Homo sapiens: one gene and its partners. The protein of the gene in region 1 purifies or fractionates together with the protein of each later gene. This does not show direct contact. Each region holds a gene or a part of one and is shown on either strand. Other genes may lie near its edges.

Region 1 (3,530 bases):
TGGCACGAACATGACTCACTGCAGCCTCGACCTCCCCAGTTCAGGTGATCCTCCCACCTCAGCCTGGCAAGTAGCTGGGACTACAATCCTGTGCCACCACATTTGGCAAATCTTCTGTATTTGTTGTAGAGTCAAAGTTTCACTATGTTGGCAGGCTGGTCTCAAACTCTTGGGCTCAAGTGATCCTCCAGCCTTGGCCTCCCAAAGTGCTGGTATTACAAGGCATGAGCCACCATGCCTAGACTGTGTTTTATTTTTTATTTATTTATTTATTTATTTATTTATTTATTTATTTATTTTGAGACAGAGTTGCCCAGGCTGGAGTGCAATGGCATGATCTCGGCTCACAGCAACCTCCACCTCCCGGGTTCAAGGGATTCTCCTGCGTCAGCCTCCTGAGTAGCTGGGATTACAAGCATGCACCACCATGCCCGGCTAATTTTTTGTATTTTTAGTAGAGACGGGGTTTCGCCATGTTGGCCAGGCTGGTCTCAAACGCCCGACCTCAGGTGATCCGCCCGCCTCAGCCTCCCAAAGTGCTGGGATTACAGGCGTGAGCCACCGCGCCCGGCCTTTAATTTTTTATCTTTTGTTTTTGTTTGTTTGTTTGTTTTTGTTTTTTTGAGACAGAGTCTCGCTCTGTCACCCAGGTTGGAGTGCAGTGGCACCAGTCTCAGCTCACTGCAAGCTCCGCCTCCCGGGTTCAAACTGTTCTCCTGCCTCAGACTCCTGAGTAGCTGGGACTACAGGCGCCCACCACCATGCCTGGCTAATTTTTTGTATTTTTATTTTTATTTTATTTTTTATTTATGTATTTATTTTTGAGACAGAGTCTCACTCTGTCGCCCAGACTGGAGTGCAGTGGTGCGATCTCAGCTCACTGCAACTTCTGCCTCTTGGGTTCAAGCAATTCTGTGCCTCAGCCTCCTGAGTAGCTGGGATTACAGGTGCCTGCCACCACACCTGGCTAATTTTTGTATTTTTAGTAAAAACAGGGTTTCACCATCTTGGCCAGGCTGGTCTAGAACTCCTGACCTTGTGATCCACCCACCTCGGCCTCCCAAAGTGCTGGGATTACAGGCATGAGCCACCGCGCCCGGCCTTTTGTATTTTTAGTAGAGACGGGGTTTCACCGTGTTAGCCAGGATGGGCTCGATCTCCTGACCTCGTGATCCACCCGCCTCGGTTTCCCAAAGTGCTGGGATTACGGGCGTGAGCCACCGCGCCCAGCCTTTTTTTTTTTTTTTTTTAAAGAAACAGGTTGTACTGTCACTCAGGCTGGAGTGCAGTGGTGCAATTGTGGCTCATTATAGTCTCAAACTTCTAGGCTCATGCAATCCTCCAGCCTCAGCCTCCTGAATAGCTGGGATTACAGGCATGTGCCACTGGTCATTGTTTTCGTTTGTTTGTTTTGAGACTGAGTCTCACTCTGTCTCCCAGGCTGGAGCACAGTGGCACAACCTCAGCTTACTACAACCTCTGCCTCTTGGGTTCAATGACTTTTAAAATGTTTTATTTTTTTTAATTATTTTTATTTTATTTATTTTTTGAGACGGAGTTTCGCTCTTGTTGCCCAGGCTGGAGTGTAATGGCACAATCTCGGCTCACTGCAACCTCTGCCTCCCGGGTTCAAGCGATTCTCCTGCCTCAGCCTCCCGAGTAGCTGGGATTACAGGCACGTGCCATCATGCCCAGCTAAGTTTTGTATTTTTAGTAGAGACAGGGTTTCTCCATGTTGGTCAGGTTGGTCTTGAACTCCCGACTTCAGGTCATCTGCCCGCCTTGGCCTCCCAAAGTGCTGTGATTACAGACGTGGGCCACCGCGCCTGGCTGTGATGTTTTTTTTTTTAACTTGTTTTCCCTATTAGGATATGAGCTGTTTTTAGAAGTGGAGACTTGGTCTGCTTTTTCACTGCATTTACTACCATGCCAGGATGCCAGATACAAGGAAAGTGAGTAATAAAGATTTAATTGAATGAGCACATGAATGGCAGCTAGTGTGCAGGAAGGATTGGAGAGGGTGAGCCTGGAGTCCAGTGGTGAGGGGACCCAGGCTGGAAATGAAGGAGGAGGTGGGGCGAGGGTGGGCAAACCTGTCCTGTCCTGTTCTTCAGGTATGGCTTCTCCCACTTCCATTCGCGAATCACTGCCTGGACCACTTTCTCATCTCCCTGCAAGGAGGGAAGTCCAGTCACCTTTCAGCATGCCACCTCCAGCTAAGGCCAGGTGCTACCTACTTGTCCCCCACCATCCACCGCCACGGGAACCCTACACCCACCCCTTTGCCCCTTACCTTGAGCAGGTCCAGCAGCTTTAGTTCCAGTGCCTTAGTCTCCTTGCGGAGCTGACTGATGGTCTCCTGGTTCTTCTTGATGTTCCACTGAGAGCTCTCAAAAAAAGCCTTCCGGTCACCCTCTGGCAGGCAGGTGAGGTGGACAGACACACAGTTACTGGGTGGGTGCATGGGTGCAACATCCCAGAGGAAAGACCTTTTTTGCAATCATCAACTTTTTTTTTTTTTTTGAGATGGAGTTTCACTCTTGTTGCCCAGGCTGCAGTGCAATGGTGCAATCTCGGCTCACCACAGCCTCCGCCTCCCGGGTTCAAGAGATTCTCCTGCTTCAGCCTCCCAAGTAGCTGGGATTACAGGCATGTACCACCACACCTGGCTAATTTTGTATTTTTAGTAGACATGGGGTTTCTCCATGTTGGTCAGGCTGGTCTCGAACTCCTGACCTCAGGTGTTCCCAAAGTTCTAGGCCCCCTAAAGTCCTAGGATTATAGGTGTGAGCCACTGTGCCAGGCTCATCAACTTAATATTATAAGAATGCAGTCGTTGACCAGCCTGGCCAACATGGTAAAACCGCATCTCTACTAAAAATACAAAAATTAGCCAGGTGTGAGGCTGAGCATGATGGCTCGTTCCTGTAATCCTTGCACTTTGGGAGGTAGAGGCGGGCGGATCACCTGAGGTCAAGAGTTCAAGATCAGCCTGGCCAACATGGTGAAACCCCATCTCTACAAAAATACAAAAATTAGCTGGGCATGGCCGGGCACGGTGGCTCACGTCCATAATCCCAGCACTTTGGGAGGCCAAAGTGAGCGGATCACGAGGTCAGGAGATCGAGACCATCCTGGCTAACATAGTGAAATCCCGCCTCTACTAAAAATACAAAAAAAAAAAAAAATTAGCCGTGCATGGTGGCAGGCACCTGTAGTCCCAGCTACTCAGGGGACTGAGGCAGGAGAATGGTGTGAACCTGGGAGGCAGAGCTTGCAGTGAGCCGAGATCGCACCACTGCACTCCAGCCTGGGTGACAGAGCGAGACTCTGCCTCAAAAAAAAAAAAAAAAAAAAATTAGCCGGGCATGATGGTGGGTGCCTGTAATCCCAGCTACAGGAGGCTGAGGCACAATAATTACTTGACCTCTGGAGGTGGAGGTTGCATTGAGCTGAGATCCTGCCACTGCACTCCAGCCTGGGCAACAGAGCAAGACTCTGTCTCAAAAAACAAAACAAAACAAAACAAA
Region 2 (3,530 bases), on another chromosome or scaffold:
GAATAAGTAAGTACTTAGGATCTATTAAGGCACTGAGGATTCCCGGGTCCATGTACTGTTCTCTCTACAGATCAGATCAGTATTTTACAGTCAAGGAGTCAAAAAGGCAGAAATAAATATTGAATTCTTCAAGTAATAAACGAGGTCCACAGCCTGGATCCTTGGTTACATAAACTCCAAAGTCCAAAATGCTGATGCACACCAGGCTGGGTGCGGTGGCTCACATCTGTAATCCCAGCACTTTCGGAGACTGAGGCGGGTGGATCACTTGAAGCCAAGAGTTCGAGACCAGCCTGGCCAACATACAGAAACCTCCTTTCTACTAAAAATACAAAAATTAGCTGGGCATGGTGGCACACGCCTGTAATCCCCGCTGCTTGGGAGGCTGAGGCAAAGAATCGCTTGAACCCGGGAGGCAGAGGCTGCAGTGGGCCAAGATCGCACCACTGCACTCCAACCTGGGCAACAGAATGATTCCATCTCAAAAAAAAAAAAAAATGCTGATACAACCAGAGTATGTTCCATCCATGTGATAGAGTATACAGCTACTCAAACATCTTATTTTTGAAATTCCAAGACCCCAGTGAATGTCCAAAAACGATGAATAGTACCAAACCAGGTTGCCATCAATCGAAACATGCTTCCTGTTTGTGTCCTCCACCCACAAATTTAATGTCTTGTCCATCTCAACTAAGCACTTATCACACACTGTGGCTGTAACTTTTGCAGTTTGGGGTGTCACAACAAAACTAGCACAAATTTCTTTTTCCTTCTTCACAATTTCATGGACAAAAGATTTGTTCTTACCATAGATCTCAGCAACCCCAGTATATGATCTTTTTTCTTTCCTAAGTCAAAAACTCACCTCTTCACTTAAAGGAAGCACTATATGGCTTCTCTCTGGCATATGTGAACTGCCAGCATCACTATTCTTGCTCTTTGGTGCCATTTTAAATAAAATAAAGGTTACTTGAACACAAGCACTGCAATACTCCAACAACTGATCTGATAACTGAGATGGCTAGTATGTAACTAGCGGGTGGGGAGCACATACAGCATGAATATGTTGGACAAAGGGATGATTCGTGTCCTGGGTAGGACGGAGCAGGAGGCCGTGAGATTTTTATCATGTTATTCAGACCTGTTTGCAATTTAAAACTCATGAAATGTTTATTTATATAATCTTCCATTCAATATTTTTGGACCACGGGTGACGCAGGTAAGTAAAACCACGTAAGGCAATACTGTGGATAAGAAGGGACTACTGTACCAGCAACGAACAATCAGAAAATGAAATTAAGAAAGCAATTCCATTTACAATCGCATCTAAAAGAAAAAAATGCCTGGGAATAAATGTAAACAAGGAGGTGAGAGACTTGTATGCTTAAATTACAAAACCTTGCTCAATGCCAGGCTAACACCTGCAATCCCAGCACTGGCGACAGAGCAAGACTCCGTCTCAAAAAAAAAAAAGAACTATAGCAATCTTAACAAAAATAATACACAACAGTCAGGACAGCACATAAAGGAACAAGGCCTGTTCCCCCCTTCCTTTTTTTTTTTTTTTTTTGAGATGGAGTCTTGCTCTGTCGCCAGGCTGGAGTGCGGTGGCTCGATCTCAGCTCACTGCAACCTCTGCGTCCCGGGTACAAGCTGGGACTACAGGCGCATGCCACCATGCCCAGCTAATTTTTGTATTTTCAGTAGAGATGGGGTTTCACCATGTTGGCCAAGATGGTGTCGATCTCTCGACCTTGTGATCTGACTTCTTCCGCCTCCCAAAGTGCTGGGATTACAGGCATCAGCCACCGAGCCCGCCAGTTCCCCCTTTTCAAAATGAAGAAATAGATTCAAGGTACAATGCCAAAACATAATAGAAAAATAATTCCATTACCTTCTTTGCTTCCAACTATGTTAAAACATAATAGAAAAATAATTCCATTACCTTCTTTGCTTCCAACTATGTTATTAAAGTAGACAATCTTAAGATAATTAAACAACTTTACAAATTATTCTTCTATATGATCTTTTGCCTCTAACCTGCTCACTTTACAAGGGAACTGAAGCTCAAGCAGGCAAATGCCTTGTTTAAAGATATACAGCTAGAAAGGAGCACAGCCCATGTTATGTAAACAGGACAATATCTGATGCAAGCAGTACTTCTTTACATGACAGCAGATGTCACTATAAGCAAATACCTGAATTCACTTAAGCTGTCAAATATCAAGAACTGATGCAGGGCTGAAAACAGGAACAGTAAGACCCTAAGAGATGCCACATCATCGCTATCTTGCACAGTAAGATAGAGATGTAATTGTAATTGTCCAAAACTTAATATTTGTGGCCTACTTTTTCATTATGCAGTTCTAAATTTCTCTCTCTTTTTTTTTTAATTCAAACGGAGTCTCACCCTGTCGCCCATCTTGCACAATCAAATGAATCTCCCTCCCCCTAAAATCCTCCAAAAAAGCTGCTGTTCTCAACAAACCCATCTGATCAGCTCCAAATCTGTGGAGTCCCAACAAGGGTGAAGGCCGTGATTATACAGGACAATGAGGAAAAGTCTAGATACTGAACCATGAGTTCCCCAATCTTCTTCCCCTGGAACATAAGGGTAAGGAAATCTCTCAAAAGGCAGAACAAACAAAAGAGGAGAATAAGAGAAAAATTAGAGAAACTCCAGCTTTCAGGTAAACATCATTAAAAAAAAGGGTAAGAAATGGTTAAAGAAATAATACAAGAAATGCTACAGAACTGAAAGAAATGAGTTTCCCAATTGAAAGGACACTTCCAGAAAACCTTTAAGTTACCAAGAACAAGAATCTCATGGGACTCCTAACAACAGAACTTCTAGAAAATGAAGCAATGCTTTCAAAATTGCGAAAAAAATTATTTGAAACTCAGAATTCGATAACCAAATGATCAACTAAATTAAGTAAAGATGTTTTAAAGACATACCATTAGTTTCTAGACCAGCCTGACCAGTATGGTGAAATCCCATCTCTACTAAAAATAGAAAAAATTAGCCGGGCATGCTGGCGCACACCTGTAATCCCGCTACTCGGGAGGCTGAGGCAGGAGAATCACTTGAACCTGGGAGGCGGAGGTTGCGGTGAGCTGAGACCATGCCACTGCACTCCAGCCTGGGCAACAGAGCAAGACTCTGTCCCATAACAAAAACAAACAAAAAAACCTCTCATCCACTTTTCCTCAAAGCAAGTGAGACTATGCTACACCAAAACAAAGAAAGTAAATGAAGAGGACATGAGATACAAGAAACAAAGGGTCTAACTCAGAAAAAAGATGAAGGGAATTCTCAAACTGGTGATAAAGGGAAGTCCCAAGAGCACAGCTGTGTAGCAAAGAGGAAGAAAAACCAATCCGGGTTGGAGAAGTTGGTTAGTAAGGGTATTCCAGGTAGACAGACAATCAATCAATCAATCAGTGTTTTAAGCTGAAATTGATGGGATTATCTGACCAGTTTGACCACATTTGAGGGTTTAAATTGCTGAGTTTAAGTAAGCAAGTAG
Region 3 (4,156 bases), on another chromosome or scaffold:
GTTCAAGACCAGCCTGGCCAACATGGTGAAACTCTGTCTCTACTAAAAATACAAATTAGCTGGGCGTGGTGGCCTACGCCTGTAATCCAGCTACATGGGAGGCTGAGGCAGGAGAATCGCTTGAACCCAGGAGGCAGAGGTTGCAGTGAGCAGAGATCACACCACTGCACTGCATCCTGGGCAACAAGAGTAAAACTCCATCTCAAAAAAAACAGAAACAAAAACAAAAAAAATCCTACTATATACCATTCTCTTTTCTCTGTTTCAGGCTGTATTCTCTGTCTGGTCCTTTCCTCATATCCATAAATTTGCCAGTTCCCCACGTCTATTTCCTTTATATTTATCAGGTCAACCAACTGCTAATCCTTTCACATGACTGGTAAAGCCACCTTTGACAGTACCAGCTATCTTCCTGTATCTATCTTCCTGTAAGATAACTTTGATCATGTCACTTCTTTGCTCATTAAGTTTAAACTCTTTAAGTGGCACTCAAGTTCCTTCACAAAGGATTCTGACCTGACTTCTGGACTTCTGAATTACTCCTATCCAGTAGGATTCCTAAACTCCAAGCTAATAGTCCTTCTCTACTGTCCTTTGAATAAGTAGAGGAGGCCCAGCTGTTTCTATCTCATTCCTTATTCATCTAACACTATTTGGATGAAGATGTTGTCTTAGTAGTTTAAGATTGGGAGGATGAAGGATATAGATGAAATATTTAGTATTAATATCCAATATATGCTATGTGCTAAAGGAGTGGTAGAGGCTATTCATTGATGTATATTTTCCTTTTCTCTCTAACTGGTTACATATTAAAGAATAAAATGTTTATTTTACTTTTATTTTTTAAATACAGTGTCACACTATATTGCCCAGGCTGGTCTCAAGGGGTCCTCTTGCCTCGGCCTTTGCAAAGTGCTCGGCTGAGCCATGCATCTGGCCAAGAATAAAATTTTTAGCACTTGTATTTGTTGAGCTATGTTTTCTCAGGACATCAAATTTAGTTGTAATAATCTTTAACTTTTCAAAGAACAAACATACCTCTCTCACTATTGTTTGTATTTGTGTAAATTTTCAGGCTTTTTTTTTTCCATTACTGATTTGTGGCTTAACAGAAATAATTTTCCACAGCAGTTCCATTTATTCCACAACTCCTAGGACATTGTTACAGTTAAAAGAGCAAGAACTTTGCAATGACAAAGGCCAAGAGTAGCATTCTGAATTCTACCCCCACCCCCATCCTTTCAGCAGTGTGACTTCAGGTAAATTGTGACCTCTCCAAATTTCTTTCTCCTAACTCTAACATGGGGATAATAATACCTACTTCATAGGGTTATTGCAAAAATTAAATGAGTAGGTGGAAACAACTTCACAGTCCTTCATACATACTAAGAACTCGACAAATAGAAATTATCAATACAATTATTACTATTCAAAAGCAAGAGCACTACTGTCTAGATTATCTGGTAACTCTGATTTTGAAAACCTGAGCACAAGATAATGAAACTGCACTGTAGCAGTTACCTAAATTCTGGTAGTACAAACTAAATGAGCACTGTCTACACTTTAATATGTCCCTTATTTTACTTGACCCCTCTAGAAAGCAAATTATTATATGTATGATTATTCATCATGACAGAGGCATAGAAATATGTAAAATAATTGAAATTATATAATGTCTGGGATTTGCTTCAAAATAACCCAGGATAGCCGGGTGCGATGACTCCCGCCTGTAATCCCAACACTTTGGGAGGCCAAGGAGGGAGGATCGCTTAAGCCAAGGAGTTCAAAGATAGCCTGAGCAACATAAGGAGACCCCATCTCTACAAAGGGGGGGGGGGGGGAAAGCCGGGCGTGATGGCGCCTGCCTGTAGTCCCAGCTAGTGGGGAGGCTGAGGCGTGAGGATCGCTGGGGCCCAGGAGGTGGAGGCTGCAGTGGGTAGAGATCCCGCCACTGCACTCCAGCCTGGGTGACAGAGACCCTGTCTCAAAAACGCAAAATAACCCGGATTAGGGGAGCAAGACTGCCCACGTATTGATAATTACTGAAACTGGGTAATGAGTACAGTGAATTCCTTATATCCTTCGTTCAATTTCTCCACAGTTTGAAGATTTCCATAATAAAATGCTGCTGTTGTTAATGCCCAAAGGCCGGCTTTGGGGTTTCCTGCAAACCCTGGTCATGGTCAGAAGATACACTGGGAAGTTCTAGGAGGCGAAAAGCGACACAGCAACCACAGGAAGCTGGTTAAACTTCCCGGCGGATCAGCCAGCGCACTGCTCCTCCCGGAGGCCGGCTGGCGGTGCACCCGCGCAGTCCGGCTCCTGAGCCCGTTAAGGGCGCAGCACCCAAGGGAGCCGCCGCGAAGGGCGGTCTCCCCAGGACCGCCGCCTGGCGGCCGGCGCGGGAACCGGGGGTCCGAAAGATGGACCGAAGGTCGGGGGAGGGGGCAGGAGGTGTAGGGGTAGATTGGCGGGTGGGCGAGTCTCAGCCTTCAGGGCAAGTCAGCCGACTTCCCTCAGCTCCTCCGGAGCCCCCGACCCACGCGCCCTCAGCCGAGGCAGTCTCTGCCTCCCGGCCGCGGGGCAAACACTCAACCGGCCCAGGATCCCGCCGGCCTCCCTGCGTTCCCGAACCGAGCTCCTTCAGCTCCTGTTCTGACTGTTTCCAGGGCATCCCATCGCCGTCAGGCCTGCAGCCGACTTCATCACCCGCTAGCCAACCGCTTTTCCGAGTTCCCACCCTACTCACCTCGGCCGCGCGGCAGCCAGCACCCTCTCCGGCTCCTCAGGCTTCTAGCTTGGCTGTCCCGTGGCGTTGCTGCCAATCAGCCAATCCCCGCCCCAAGCCTGAGCCAGGCTGATCAATCAGCTGTTTCCTCAGGCTCGGAGGCGGGCACAAGAAGCTCGGCAGAGGACGCGGCAACCGCTCCGCAAGCCGGCTGCTGAGAGTCACAGTCGGTGTGCGCACGCGCGGAGCTCTGAGAGGGGCGTGTGCTTTTGTGCGGACCTTGCTTTGTGCCTTCACCGTCCTGTCCTGGGAAGTGCTTTTGTCAGCTTCATGCTTTAGGGGTTTAGGGACACCCACATTCTGAATGTAGCCGCAGATGTGTATTACCTTGAAAAAGGCTGCGAGTCGTAAGCTTTTGTTAACCTAACATGTGGAGCCCATTTCACCCCACGCTGTAGGGACCTGTGTCCACCCGGCAGATCTAATGCCTATGCGGACCTCACATCCGAGATGTTTCTCTTTAGGCAGAGCAGGAGTGCGGGGATTACAAAGTGCCTCATGGATAAGTATTTTACTTTACCATGTTCGGTTCCAGCGTCTGTTCAGTCCGATTCATTTGGGGCACGTGCTTTCTAAAGATTTGAATACTCTAGGACACTCTGGATTTCAAATAATTGTCGTGAAAATATGATTATTACATTTCTAGCTAACTTATGCAGTGTAGTAATGTGCGTAGGCGTGATGAAAGATTCCTATGTAGGGTAGGAAACCTGTCCGTATTTTTGTATGGCTTTTGAAGAGGCTGTTGCTGATTGGCTGTCTCTCTTACCCTCCCATTGCAATTGATCCCGGAGGTCGCTGGGCTGTCACTGGATCTCTGATGTTCTTGCCCCGGGTGGCACAAGTCTCTTCCTAGTGAGGGCTTTCCTCCTTCACCCAGAGCATTAACTCATTTACTCAACAACGGCTTGTTGGGGGACAACTATGACAGCAGAAAGGTTGTTAAAAGCCTTGAGCCACGCCCTAAGTGAGCCTACAAGATAACGAGGAGATAACACAAACTAAACAAAAACACAAACTTAATCAAATATTATAATGGAATCGAGGTGGGAGCCTGGGCGCCTCCATAATGTCTCAGGGAATACTTCCTGAGAAGTGAGTGCTTGTCTGAGGCTGAATGAAAGAGCAGGAGCTTTGGAGCCGAAAGGGTGGGAGCAATGGACGGTGGCGATTCTGTCAAAGGGCACTAATTTCTTCCTCTGAGATCTTTCCGGAGGGTATTTACTGCTAAGCTAATGAAGCTTGTGTTTCAGGCACGCTGGCTTTCGCCAGCCTTTCCAAAGTCCATAGAGGAACTTTAGCATCGAGTTTACGAGATTATATGTTGTTTCCTACTTATTTATTAAAAGGAAAATGTCTTAAAGCACC
Region 4 (3,500 bases), on another chromosome or scaffold:
AGCTATGTCAACTCTTGACTTAAAGATCTCTACTAGCATCACACTGGCTATGGCAGCCACTTTCAACTTTTATTGGCTAAGAACCACCCACAGAACAACAACAACAAAATCAGATGCCCTGGCTCCATCCCCAGAAAATAACGATTCAGGAAGCCTGGGAAGGCACTCAATAATTCATTTTTAAATTAACAACACACAAGCGATTCTAAAGCCTGTTGTTCAGGAATCAATCTTTAACAATGATTATAGAAGTAATGGGTTTAATTGCATAAACAGTATGACACAAGGGCCTTCACAAACAGGTCCCAACTTTGTTTGCTAGCTACATTTTCTTCATCACCCTCCAACTCACTCAGTGTTTCCAACTTTGTTACAATGTTTTCTACTCTACTAGCCTCTTAGAGTCTGTTCTCTCTGCATGGAATGCTGTCTCTAACTTTTTACCTGGCAAACTCCTGTTCATTCTTTAAGACCCAGCTAAAAATACAGACCCTCTGTGAATCCTTTCTGAATACCCTAGGCAATTAGTTACTTCCTCCTTCATACTTCCACAACACTCTGACCATACTTAATTGCTACATTTACTAGACCACAAGTAAATTATCTGTTTACATGTCTAGCTCACCCACTGGACACTTCCATATCCTTGCACCTAGTAGGTTCTTTGTGTAATTAATTGAAAGATAGCTGAGAAGAAATTTTGGAATATGTGAACATATTAATCAACTGCTACTGCCTGATCCTATTTTCACAACCCAAAACGTCTTCTTCTATACAAGTTTTTGTCTTGAAAATACAAGAAAGATTTTATTCACTAACAGCCAAGACAATGAAAGAAGCTATAACATCCAAGAACATGACAATCTCCCATCAATAATCAACTCTATAAAGAATCCCTGGCCAGGTGTGGTGGCTCACGCCTGTAATCTCAGCACTTTGGGAGGCCAAGGTGGGCAGATGACTTGAGGTCCGGAGTTCAAGACCAGCCTGGCCAACGTGATGAAACCCTATCTCTACCAAAAAATACAAAAATTAGCCAAGGGTGGTGGTGCACACCTATAGTCCCAGCTACTCGGGAGGCTGAAATGGAGAATCGCTTGAACCCAGGAGGTGGAGGTTGCAGTGAGCTAAGATCGCGTCACTGCACTCCAGCCTGGGCGACAAAGCGAGACTCCGTCTCACAAAAAAATAAATAAATAAATAAATAAAAACATTAAAAAAGGCCAGGCACAGTGGCTCACGCCTGTAATCCCAGCACTTTGGGAGGCCGAGGCGGGCGGATCACAAGGTCAGGAGATCAAGAGCCTCCTGGCTAACAGTGAAACCCTGTCTCTACTAAAAATACAAAAAAAAAAAAAAAATTAGCCAGGCGTGATGGCAGGCGCCTGTAGTCCCAGCTACTTGGGAGGCTGAGGCAGGAGAATGGCATGAACCCAGGAGGTGGAGCTTGCAGTGAGCCAAGATCAGGCCACTGCACTCCAGCCTGGGTGACAGAGTGAGACTCCGTCTCAAAAAAGAAAAAAAAAAAAAAATCCCTATGGCCAGGCCACGGTAGATCATGCCCATAATCCCAATGCTGTGGGAGGTCAAAGTAGGAGGATCACTTGAGCTCAAGACCAGCCAGAGCAACACAGTGAGACACTGTTTCTATTAAAAATAATTTTTTAAAATTAGCTGGGCACAGTGGTGTGCACCTATAGTTCCAGCTACTCAGGAGGCTGAGGCAGGAGGATCGCTTGAGCCTGGGGAGGTCAAAGGTAGTGCGAGCTGTGATAGCATCACGGCACTTAAGCCTCGGCGATAGAGCAAGACCCTGTCTCAAAACAACAAAAGAATCCCTGCAAGAACCTACTATCAAGTTTTTTGCCTTTTTTCTATTTTTATCTTTGGAGACAGCGTCTCATTCTACGGCCCAGGCTGGAGTGTAGTGGTACAATCTCGGCTCACTGCAACCTCGACCTCCTGAGCTCAATCAATTCTCCCGCCTCAGCCTCCCAAGTAGCTGAGACTACAGGCATGCACCACTGTGCCTGGCTAATTTTTGTATTTTTTGTAGAGACAAAGTTTTGCTATGTTGTTTAGGCTGGTCTCAAACTCCTGGGCACGAGTGCTCTGCCTGCCTCAGCGTTCCAAAGTGCTCGGATTACAGGTGTAAGCCACCACGCCCAGCCTATAGCTATTTTAAAACAGTTAGTAGGTACTTGAATTAGCCACATTTACCACGTTAATCTCATTTCACAAGAAAGAAGGTGTACTTGTAGAGGTAATCTCAGAGGGAATTAAACAATTGAAAACAAGAGTTCTAAGCTCTTGCTTCACTACTAGGTCAATGCCTTCAACTCTTCAACTTGGATCAAAGTTCAGTCTCTCAGCTTTATTTGTGGAGGATGTGGGGGGAAAAACACACAAAAAACACAACCCAGAAAATACGTGAAGTACAGCCTCCTGTCATTTTTATAATCCTAGTAACAAAAAGATATCAACTGGGATAGTCCCCGATCCAAACTGACATGTTTTCTTTCAGATTTCAAAATTTTCTTTTTTTAATCTTAAAATGTCTTAGAGAAACAAATTTGAAATACTTTGTTAGATGCTGAGTGGGTGAAGTTGCCCTCCAGACAACATGAAGTCCCTGCTACAACTGTCTATTGACTAATAGTAGTCAATGATGTCTCCCTTGTTTACACCACACATTTGCAGAGAGTCTGCCCTTACACCAGTGGAGACAGATTCCATAACAGTAGATGAGAAACACCATCGGATCATATGATGACACATTCAATTTGCTTAACTCTAAAAGAAATAAGAGGACTGATTAACTACCGTGGGTTTGGCTCCCAAAAGAATTTTCTTCAATGGTTTTGATGGTGGTTACACTGGGGTTCACAGAACTGACACTTGATGTCTGAGAGCTCTGAAAGACAGGTGTCTTGCCTTTTTCCTTTCTGATTTCCACCCTCCCGGTAGGCTCCTTCTGTGAACTATTAAGAAAATCAAACAGCAGCTCATCATCAGGTTCTGACTTTTTTCTTCGCACAAAATGGGATGAAGGCCTAGGAACAGATGCATTTTCAACAGGATGAGAGGCCTCTACTGGTGTCCGAGATCCTACTTTCACATTTGCAGTGCCAGCTAAGATGGTGGCTTTTTGATTTCGAATGTTATCAGCTGCTGATGAAATATACGTAGATTTAGGTCCAGTCTGATATATCAAATCTGTATTTTGCTGGTGAAGTTCAGTATAGTCAGTATTTTTGCTATATATGTTGCTGGCATTGTCTTTCCTACTGAGAGCTGTTGCAGCCCCTTGATCAACTCGGTTTAAAAGATCTTCTGCCTTTCCAGCAAGATCAACAAACCAAGACATGATGGCAGCAGGATAATCCTATTGGCAAACCTGTAAAAAGGACATAAAATGATCAGTGTGGCATAGTGGCAGAGTATGATAAATGGTTAAGACCAGACTCTGGAGTCAGGCAATCCTGGGTTGAAATCCTAAC
Region 5 (3,530 bases), on another chromosome or scaffold:
AACAAGAGCAAGAGTCCGTCTCAAAAAAAAAAAAAAGAAGCACTGAAAGAATGTTTTGGGGAAAAAAAAACTAGTTAAACTCCTAGAAGCAAATTGCAAATTACATCAGAGAAACATACAGAACTCTTCTCTTCATATTGCTAAATCTGAGATTTCCAATCTTCTATTTTTATCACATACATTTCTTTAAAAAAAACTTTTTTTTAATGGAGACAGGGTCTCACTTGTCCAAGGCTGGAATGCAGTAGTGTGATCACAGCTCACTGCAGCCTTGAACTCCTGGGCTCAAGTAATCCTCTAACTTTGGCCTCCCCTAAAATACTGGGATTACAGGCATGAAACACTGTGCTGGCCTAAAAATATTTTAGAGACATCATCTAAAATATGGAATTGGAAACATTATGGAATTATTTTTACATATCCAATTGGGACAATATCACAAGTGCTAGGTTCAGATTATTTCCAAGGTCTTTAAAGTTTATACTGTGCACAGCAACACTGATCGGCATGATTTAACATTCTTTTAAATCATGTTTCAAAAGTTAAAATTTTGCTTTTCTTTTTCCATTCAAAATATTATAATTATCTTAAAAAGAAATGTTATAATATCAAAGGCACCAAATTAGCAAAATCAAACAGGTAGGTTTGTTTGTTTGACCACCTTTTCCATACAGCTATTATAGTATGTTCTCACTGAAGGAAAGATCCTGGCCACTGTCCTAGATAAGGTCTAATACTATAAGTGGGTATCTTGAGAGAATCTGAATATACAATCCTAGATTACAATATGGCTTTACACTCATAAGGTGGAATAGAGAATATAAACTGGGTAAAACATCAGAACTGCAAAGATTTTAGTAAACAATACCAAAACCTTTATATTGTATATTGACCTTGCATATACTCCTGATAATAATCCAGTAGATTCTAGCTGTCTTCTGGAAGCTTGCATACAAGTAAACACTGAAACTATTTCTTAGAGCTAGAATAGATACGGTAGAAAAACAGGCTGGGGATTAAAAGTCTTTGATTCTTATTCTGCCCCTGCCACTGCCATGTGCCCAGGGCAGGTTATTTCCTCTCTTGGCCTTGGTTCCCTTAAGAGAATAACCCTTCTAACTTTTAAATTCCATGATTCTAATTATTTAATATACTGCTAGTAAGTATGAAAAGACTAAAATCATATACATCAATGTGTCCTAGGGAATTTCATACACAATTCAAGGTTATTTTTGGACACAGAAAACTGAGTATTTATCAAGTTCTGTATTCAAAGAAGCAGAAAATGAAATCTGTCTTTATATATAGCATCTTACAGTTGTTTCTTAGACTTGCTGAAGTAATCATATTTAGCTTGCATCTCAAGCCTTATCCTAAATATCGAGGAATAAAACCACATCATGTGTTAAGAGGTACTCCAAGCTATCTGGTAACATAGAAATTATGTTAAGACAGGAAAATACATACATATCTTAATGGAGATGAGGTGATAAAACAAGGAGTACAGCAGAAGAAATTTCATCAGGAAATGCAGCACAGATGAAATGTGAATTGAAGTAGAGCCATAACCAAAAACAGAATGAAAATAAACCAAAATGTAGTAGTTAGTTTTAAAATATTTGGCAATAAATTTGTGAACCACCAACCAAAGCTTCAAGTGTGGAAATGAGGACTGGGGTAATAAGGAAAATGTTGTCTATTTTTTTTGGAATCATGATTATATGCTATCTGGCTTCACCCTACGTCCATTTCTACCATAGACAGTGACCATCATTACCAAACCCACTGACCAGCAAAGAGATACAGGTGAATGGAGTGGAGGAAAGCAGCAGTGAAAAGAGGAAGAAAAGTGAAAAAAGTATCATATGCAAAGTACTGTTCCTTTAGGGTCTTGTAGGAGATGGTGTGGTAGATGTAAACCAATCAAAAATAAAAAGATGAAATTTCATATCAACTTCCCCTCCACTCTTAACTCAAGACTTAGGGCTTACTTAGATGTCTGCCTACTGAAAATAATCACACATCTTCATGTCCGTTGTAACAGCTGGCCTCCCACACTGGCCTTTGCAGCCACGTCCACATATGAGGCTCATTATGAAGTAATGAGAACATGCATATAGGACACAAACAAATATCCACCTCATTACTCTTTGGTCACACATGTATCTCAATGGCCTCAGCTCTGAATACAAAGCACATAAGCAAACAAATATAACAGCATCAGTTAAATTCTGGTGGAAAGTAAGTAGTTTTTGTAGTTATTATATTCAATTACACCTAATTACTAGAGTTAAATGATATAACAGCACTTTGTGAGATAATGCTCATAACCAGTTAAATTTCTACAGCCCAGTTTGGCCAATATACGCTGAGTGATTCCCCATGAATCCATCTTCTTCCACTGAAATAAATTAAGGTTAGTTTTCACCTGCTCCAACTATAAACAGATTTAACTTTAAAAAGTATAGGTAAAGTATGTGAGACATTTCAAAATGGGTAGGGAAAAAAAAGAAAACATTGATTATTTCATTTAACTCTGAAAGGAGTAATAAAGCATATACTGCTTTTCTTCAAGTTCTTAAGGGCTTTGAATTATGTGAGGATATTTAAAGGTTAAACACATGCTTTTAGAAGCACAATGTTAATTCCTATACTTTAAACCAGATACTTCCAGATAATTTAATTTTGACACACACATCCAAATATAGCACCAACTGGAAAATTAAAACTCCTAAATCAGCTCAATGAATTCCTAGTTTTGAAATCACTATTTTGCGCCAGGACTCTAATTGGAAGTATGTATAACTTCTGATTTTCCATTTACTATGCTAAATAAAACTGTTTTATAGACCCCCCACCGCCGCTGCCCCGTATATCATAACTTTTGTTTTGAATGAGTATCTTGGGAAGACAACTAGAACCTTACTTTTTTTTTTAAAAAAAAAAAGGAGCCCCCAAATATACAACATGCTAATGCTATTAGAAATCTGGATCCAATTTACCTGAAGCAGAGCCATGAGCTGAGGTCATACTTTTGACCTTGGAGTCTGAGAGTCGAGAGATACTGTTAGCTCTAATTCTAGGAGAAAATTTATCTGATGGTACTAGTCTGGCTCCACTTCTAATGATGGCTTCTGCGGTCCTCGAAGAGGCACTACTTCTAGAAATTGTTGCTTCAGAGTCACTACGAGCTGACAGTGAGCCAAGTCGTGTTCTACGAGGCTGAGCCAATAAATCAATCCGAGAGATGTTACGCCTTCCTGTGGGAGGTTTTGATGTAGAACTTGTTGTGGATACTTCAGAAGCAACAGATGCTTTGTCAGCATCAGCAAGTTCACTGTCTGAAGCTTCACCAAGTCGTGCTCTGCGCAAGAGGGAAGTCCTGGTAGGTCGTGGCCTTGGAAGGGTGGTTGATTTACTAGATGAACCAGATACCACCGGAGAAGTCTTAGATTTCGTTACTTTACTTCCTTCCAGTTTGGAATGTACATGCTCATCAGCTGAGGTAAGTGGAGTCCGTCCATGAGGTT

What was found.
Region 2: the proteins of ODAD3 (region 1) and RGPD5 purify together in Homo sapiens (affinity purification with mass spectrometry, with the first as the bait; 3 studies listed by BioGRID). This does not show direct contact.
Region 3: the proteins of ODAD3 (region 1) and MTFR1 purify together in Homo sapiens (affinity purification with mass spectrometry; 2 studies listed by BioGRID and IntAct, with this or other methods). This does not show direct contact.
Region 4: the proteins of ODAD3 (region 1) and GOLGA5 purify together in Homo sapiens (affinity purification with mass spectrometry; 3 studies listed by BioGRID and IntAct, with this or other methods). This does not show direct contact.
Region 5: the proteins of ODAD3 (region 1) and CEP170 purify together in Homo sapiens (affinity purification with mass spectrometry; 2 studies listed by BioGRID and IntAct, with this or other methods). This does not show direct contact.

The regions. Positions count from the first base shown.
Region 1 is NC_000019.10:11,428,606-11,432,135, forward strand, and holds part of ODAD3 (outer dynein arm-docking complex subunit 3), read right to left. Parts: intron 2,416-3,530; coding exon 2,294-2,415; intron 2,172-2,293; coding exon 2,094-2,171; intron 1-2,093. UniProt on the Homo sapiens protein: Component of the outer dynein arm-docking complex (ODA-DC) that mediates outer dynein arms (ODA) binding onto the doublet microtubule. Involved in mediating assembly of both ODAs and their axonemal docking complex onto ciliary microtubules.
Region 2 is NC_000002.12:109,797,278-109,800,807, reverse strand, and holds part of RGPD5 (RANBP2-like and GRIP domain-containing protein 5/6), read right to left. Parts: intron 1-3,530.
Region 3 is NC_000008.11:65,643,378-65,647,533, reverse strand, and holds the start of MTFR1 (mitochondrial fission regulator 1 isoform 1 precursor), read right to left. Parts: upstream 2,801-4,156; 5' UTR 2,750-2,800; exon of another isoform or gene 1,039-2,749; intron 1-1,038. UniProt on the Homo sapiens protein: May play a role in mitochondrial aerobic respiration. May also regulate mitochondrial organization and fission.
Region 4 is NC_000014.9:92,797,305-92,800,804, reverse strand, and holds part of GOLGA5 (golgin subfamily A member 5), read right to left. Parts: intron 3,398-3,500; 5' UTR 3,368-3,397; coding exon 2,824-3,367; intron 1-2,823. UniProt on the Homo sapiens protein: Involved in maintaining Golgi structure. Stimulates the formation of Golgi stacks and ribbons. Involved in intra-Golgi retrograde transport.
Region 5 is NC_000001.11:243,161,282-243,164,811, forward strand, and holds part of CEP170 (centrosomal protein of 170 kDa), read right to left. Parts: coding exon 3,003-3,530; intron 1-3,002.